2 separate regions of the Homo sapiens genome follow, and region 1 is linked to region 2. Evidence: fine-mapped expression QTL. A gene starts in region 2. The other region holds a variant in brackets. All regions are shown on one strand. Distances are between the middles of the regions.

Region 1 (2,916 bases), 130 kb before region 2:
GGAGATCCTGTTCCAAACTCACTCATGCGGTAGTTCATAGGATTCAGTTCATTGTGGGCTGTATGTGTGAGGGCCTCATTATTCACTGGCTATTGGCCAAAGGCCACGTCTAGTTCCTTGGATATAGATCACAGATCTCTCCATAGAGCATCTCAAAACATTGCAGCTTGCTTCACCAGAAGGGGCGAGCCAAAAAGAGAGACAAAAAGCCAATGATACAGTCTGACAGTGTCCCCACCCAAATCTCACCTTGAATGTCAATAATCCCCATATTTCAAGGGCAGGGTCAGGTGGAGATAATTGAATCATGGGGGTGGTTTCTCTCATACTATTCTCATGATAGTAAATAAGTCTCACAAGATGTGATGGATTTATAAATGGAAGTTTCCCTGCATAAGCTCTCTTCCCTGCTGGCATGTAAGATGTGCCTCTGCTTCTCCTCTGCCTTCCACCATGATTGTGAGACCACCCCCAGTCATGTGGAACTGTGAATCCATTAAACCTCGTTCCTTTATAAATAAACCAGTCTCAGGTATGTCTTTGTTAGCAGCATGAGAACAGACTAATACAGTAAAGTAGTATCGAAAGAGTGGGGAGCTGCTGTTCCAAAATTGTGGAAATGACTTTGGAACTGGGTAACAGGTAGAGGTTGGAACAGTTCTAAGTGCTCGGAATAAGACAAAAAAAGTAGGAAAATTTGGAACTTCCTAGAGACTTGTTGAATAGTTTTGACCAAAATATTGACAATGATATGAACAATAAAGTCCAGGTTGAGGTGGTCTCAGATGGAAAAGAGGAACTTATTGGGAACTGGAGTAAAAGTGACCCTTGTTATGCTTTAGCAAAGAGCATAACATTTTAGCAAAATCCTTTAGCATTTTGCCCCTGCCCTAGAAATGTGTGGAACTTTGAACTTGAGAGAGATGAGTTAGGGCATCTGGCAAAAGAAATTTTTAAGCAGCAAAGTGTTCAAGAGATGACTTGGGTGCTATTAAAATCATTCAGTTTTATGTATTCACAAAGATATGGTTTACAATTGGAATTTGTGTTTAAAAATGAAGCAGAGCATAAAAGTTCAAAAATTTGCAAACTGATGATGTGATAGAAAAGAAAAAGCCATTTTCTGAGAAGAAATCCAAGCCAGCTGCAGGAATTTGCATAAATAATGAGGAGCCAAATGTTAATCGCCAAAACAATGGGGAAAATGTATCCAGGGCACATCAGAGACCTTCATGGCAGCCCCTCCCATCACAGGCCCGGAGGCCTAGGAGGAAAAACTGGTTTCATGGGTCAGGCCCAGGGCCCACCACTGTGTACAGCCTAGGGAGTTGGTGCCCTGTGTTCCAGCTGCTCCATCCATGCTAAAAGGGACAAGGTACCACTCAGGCCATGACTTCAGA[G/A]GGTACAAGCCCCAAGCCTTGGCAGCTTCCATGTGGTGTTGAGCCTGCAGATATACAGAAATCAAGAATTGAGGTTTTGGAACCTCTGCCTAGATTTCAGAGGATGTATGGAAACTCTTGGATGTACAGGCAGAAGTTTGCTGTGGGGCACGGGGTGGGGGGAGGTGGGCTGGCCTCATGAAGAACCTCTGTTAGGGCTGTATGGAAGGGAAATGTGGGGTTGGTCCTTTCCCCATGGGAGGACATAGCTACAAGGTGCCATTTATGAAGCAGAGACTGAGCCCTCACTAGAAACCAAATATGCTAACCTCTTGATCTTGGACTTCCCAGCCTGCAAAACTAACTTCTAGATGGAGAGATCATGGCAGATGGGAGGCAGGACTAGATTTAAGCTCCCACTCAGGTGCACAGAACAGCACATGGAGGCTTTCAGCATGAACTTTGACTGCAGAGCAACTGCAGGAATACATTAGGAAAGCCAAGAGAACACACAGACCCTCTGAAGGAAGCAGATTGCTCCTGCAGGACCCAGGAGACATCCCAAATGCTTTGAGTGCTCAAACAGTGGAAGTGAAAAAGGGATATTGTCCACTCCTGAACACACACTCTCACTGGGGAACTTGAAGGTGTAGACTACAGGAGAAGATTCTGATGTTACCTGAAGCTGAGTTGATTTAGAGAGCTGAGTGAAATACAGGGGTAGAGGAAGCAGTGGAAAAATCCCTGTGGGCCTTCTGGGTCCTCTAGCAAGCCATTTCTGCCTCACCTCACAGGCGTCCTTAAGGATGGCTTCCAGAGGCACTGGGGAAAGGCCACAGGGAGAAGAAAACCTCCAATTGAACTTTATAACAACTTGAACTGATTGAGAAGTCTTCCCCTGCCTTGCTAGAGAACTAAAACTTCCAAATACAAGAACCTCAAAGAACACCTGGGAAATTCATCACAAAAAGATCATCGCCTAGGCACACTTCCATCTGTTATATAAAGTTAAGACAAAGGAAAGAATCTTAAGAGCTGTGAGGCAAAAACACCAGGTAACCTATAAAGAAAAACCTGTAAGATTAACAGCAGATTTCTCAGCAGAAACCCTACAAGCTAGAAGGGATTGGGGCCCTATCTTCAGCCTCCTCAGACAAAACAATTATCATCCAAGAATTTTGTACCCAGTGAAACTAAACTTCATAAATGAAGGAAAGATGCAGTCTTTTTCAGACAAACAAATATTGAGAGGATGTGCCACTACTAAGCCAGCACCACAAGAACTACTAAAATGACCTCTAAATCTTGAAACAAATCCTGGAAACACATCAAAACAGAACCTCTTTAAAGCATAAATCTCACAGGACCTATAAAACAAAAATACAATTAAAAAAAAGGTATACAGGCAACCAATAGCATGATGAGTGGAATGGTACCTCACACCTCAATACTGATATTGAATGTAAATAGCCTAAATGCTCTACTTAAAAGATACAGAATTGCAGAATGGATAAGAATTCACAAACCAACTATCTGC
Region 2 (2,916 bases):
TTGAAAATGGAAGCCTCATGAGCTTTTATCTTAGAAAAATGCAAAATTACATACTTTAGGATCTCATCTTACAGTTCCTTCATATTTGCCAAAATGTACTTATTAATAGAAAGTCTTGGCTTATAACCTGTCTTACATGTGCAAATAGATTTGAAAGTTGAAACCTGGGACTAACATACCTAAATTTGTAAAATTTTATAAACCATAAACTGCATCACCAGTGCTATGTATTGTTTTTCTCCTCTCCCTCAGTAAATGGGCTGAAAGTTTGTAGAATGACATGCTACCTAGCTGCAACAGCACAACAGCAGAGTCAACTATTGCTCAGTCCATCTTTAACTAAGGTTTACAACAGGAATCTCCAACGTCACCACCAGAATACACAAAGAAAAATATATTTAAAAATTGACACTGAAAATATAGAGGAACACATTTCACTTTTTTCAACATAGTTACCAAAGTTTACACAGTTAAGCTGGAAAACCTTGTATTTAACGAAAAATAATTTTTCAAACAAGATTAGAATTTGTTCTACTAAAACTACCTCTGTTTCCCCTCTAACCAAAAAAAAAAAAAAAAAAAAAAAAAAGAAAGAAAGAAAGAAAGAAAAAGTGGGGATTACCAAAAAATACAGTCATTTTTAATACTAACATAATGGAAAAGGACAAAATGACAAGGTTAACGAGCAGAGAGACAAGATCAGCATTATGGCTAGTCTTTCTCTACAGTTCCACAATTCCTAACCCACATTTTTGCCAAATCCACATCCCACCCCACGCAGTACTTACACCTCCACCCACCTACTCACCCACCCCATTTATGACGGCGATCACCTTCCGGGCAGGTATGTGAAGTCAGCCCCATTTCCAGTAGACAATCGACTAGAATGTCTCAGGAGTGACTGAGTCAGAGAATAAGAAAATGATAAAGTGAGAAATTAAAACGGATACAAGTTGTAAGGTGTGTGGAGGGAGGGCGTCTCACAGCGGGGCTAAGGGTGCGGGTGAGGAGCTAAGCAGACTTGGGGCGAGAGAGAAGGGTTTCGAAGGAGTCCTAGGCAGGAGTGCGCAGGTGAGGCGAGTGAAGCAGCTCCAGCCAGAAGATCCAAAAAAACAAAACAAAACACAACAAAAAAAAGCCACAGCTTTTCCTCCGGGAATAACCTGAGGAAAGGGACTCTCGGGACGCCGCGGCGGGAGGCAGTCCCGGGAGGCACAGGAGGCCGGGAACTCACCACCTGGTAGCGCCCAGTCCCCGGCTGGTGGTGATCCATCCTGCCCGGCTCGGGATCCGGCTTCCGAGAGAGGGAGTCTTCTCCGTGCTCAGCTCCCACGGCCACCCCCGTCGACGACGTCGTCGCCGCAGGGCCCCTTCCGCCTCCGTTCCTGCAGCCGCGGTCTCCCGGCGGAAGCTCTTCACTTCCTGTGGCTCCCGCAGCGGCCGCCGAGACCTCCGCGTTGGTCGCGGTTCCGCGGAGAAGCTCCGGGGCGCCGCGCGCGCTATTGAGCATGCTCGGACCGCTCGCGCAGACTCGCTGGCTCCGCCGGCGTGCCATCCGCGCCGCCAGTGGGAGGGTATAGCTGGGTGGGAGGAGATGGAAAAGTAAGGCAAGTCCGGGGGAGCTGTCTAGGTTGTCAACCTGTCGAGTGGGCGGTCGCAAAAGGCGCGCGGGGGGCGGGAATGACCCGTCCTTGATTGGTCTTTTCTGTGTGCGCGAGTTTCGCGCAGGCACGAGCCAGTGCGCCTTCTCACCACACAGAGACAGAGGCTGACAAGGGATGGGGCCGCGTTCCTAGAACACCTGAGGACAGGTCGCCCGGGTACCCGACACTTCCTCACCCAGCGTAGGACATGGGGAGGAGATTCATCTCTAGAACATTCCCAAAACGCTTATTCAAAATCATTCGTAAGATAAGCGATTTTTTAAAGACTAATATAGAGTAGTTAGAGTTTACAGAAAAATTGAGAAGTTACAGAGATATCCCATATACACTTGGCTCCTACGCATGCATAACCCCCCACCATTATCAACATCCCCCCTCAGAGTGGTACATGTGTTACGACTGATGAACCTGCATTGACACCTCATCATCACTCAAAGTCCATAGTTACCTCAGGGTTCACTCAGGTTGTTGTATACTCCTCGAGTTAGAACAAATGTGTAATGGCAGGTATCCATCATTATAGTATCCTACAGAGTATTTCCACTGCCCTGAAATTCTTCTGTGGGGTAATTTTTGTTTTTGTTTGTTGTTTTTTTAGAGATGGGGTCTCACTATATTGCCCAGACTGGAGTGCAGTGGCTGTTAGCAGGCGCAGTCATGGCTCACTGTAGCCTCGAACTCCTCGGCCCAAGCTATCCACCTGCCTCAGCCTCTGGAGTAGCTGAGACTACAGGCACTAGCTCTTTGGTTACTTTTTAAACTCTTTTTTCCACTTTTTGGTAATAAGAGATTTAAAAATCCAACGGACTCTCCAGACAACTCTCAAAGAAAGAGGTCTCTAGAGTTCTAGGTTACTGGAAGGACGTTAGAAGAAAGTAATGAAATCAGATAGGATTATTTTGTGGTAATACTCAATAATTCCAATTGATTTAACAGCAAGGAATCACTTGGGAGCACTGTTAGTAGTATCTCACTGTCTGGTTAACCACACATGACACGGCATAAAGCATATTTCTCTAGCAAGTAGAAGAGTATGACAGAGCAGCGAAAAGTACCTTTTAACCTGAAGACCAACGTTCTATACCCTAAAAACTATGATGCTGCTTGATGTGGCCCAGCTATGTTTTTAACATAACACCACATTTTCCCTAAATGATCTTACAGTGGAGCGCCCTGAAGGGAAGGAAAGGGATCTGGAGCCCCATTTATTTCCTTCATGAATGTCCAGAGGAGATCCTTGAAATGAAGACTG

Alleles and levels. Positions count from the first base shown, and alleles are read on the strand shown. Sizes are in standard deviations (SD) of each study's normalised expression.
As copies of A replace G in region 1, the expression in testis of the gene that starts at base 1,604 in region 2 goes down (small effect, 0.25 SD a copy in GTEx).

The links. PIP is the estimated chance that this variant, and not a neighbour inherited with it, causes the effect.
Region 1: its variant is the best candidate, but not a certain one, in a credible set for the expression of NDFIP2 in testis (GTEx, PIP 0.55).

What each region holds. Positions count from the first base shown.
Region 1 is chr13:79,611,165-79,614,080 of GRCh38, reverse strand. No RefSeq gene overlaps it. Among named protein-coding and RNA genes, the nearest start is that of LINC01068, 46 kb to the right of the region's middle. The variant G/A (reference allele first, on the strand shown) is at 1,401.
Region 2 is chr13:79,479,843-79,482,758 of GRCh38, reverse strand. It overlaps NDFIP2 (Nedd4 family interacting protein 2), which reads right to left and starts at 1,604. Exons shown (of 8, transcript NM_019080.3): 1 at 1,235-1,604. The coding sequence starts at 1,555. It overlaps NDFIP2-AS1 (NDFIP2 antisense RNA 1), which reads left to right and starts at 1,528. Exons shown (of 3, transcript NR_046685.1): 1 at 1,528-1,607; 2 at 2,829-2,916.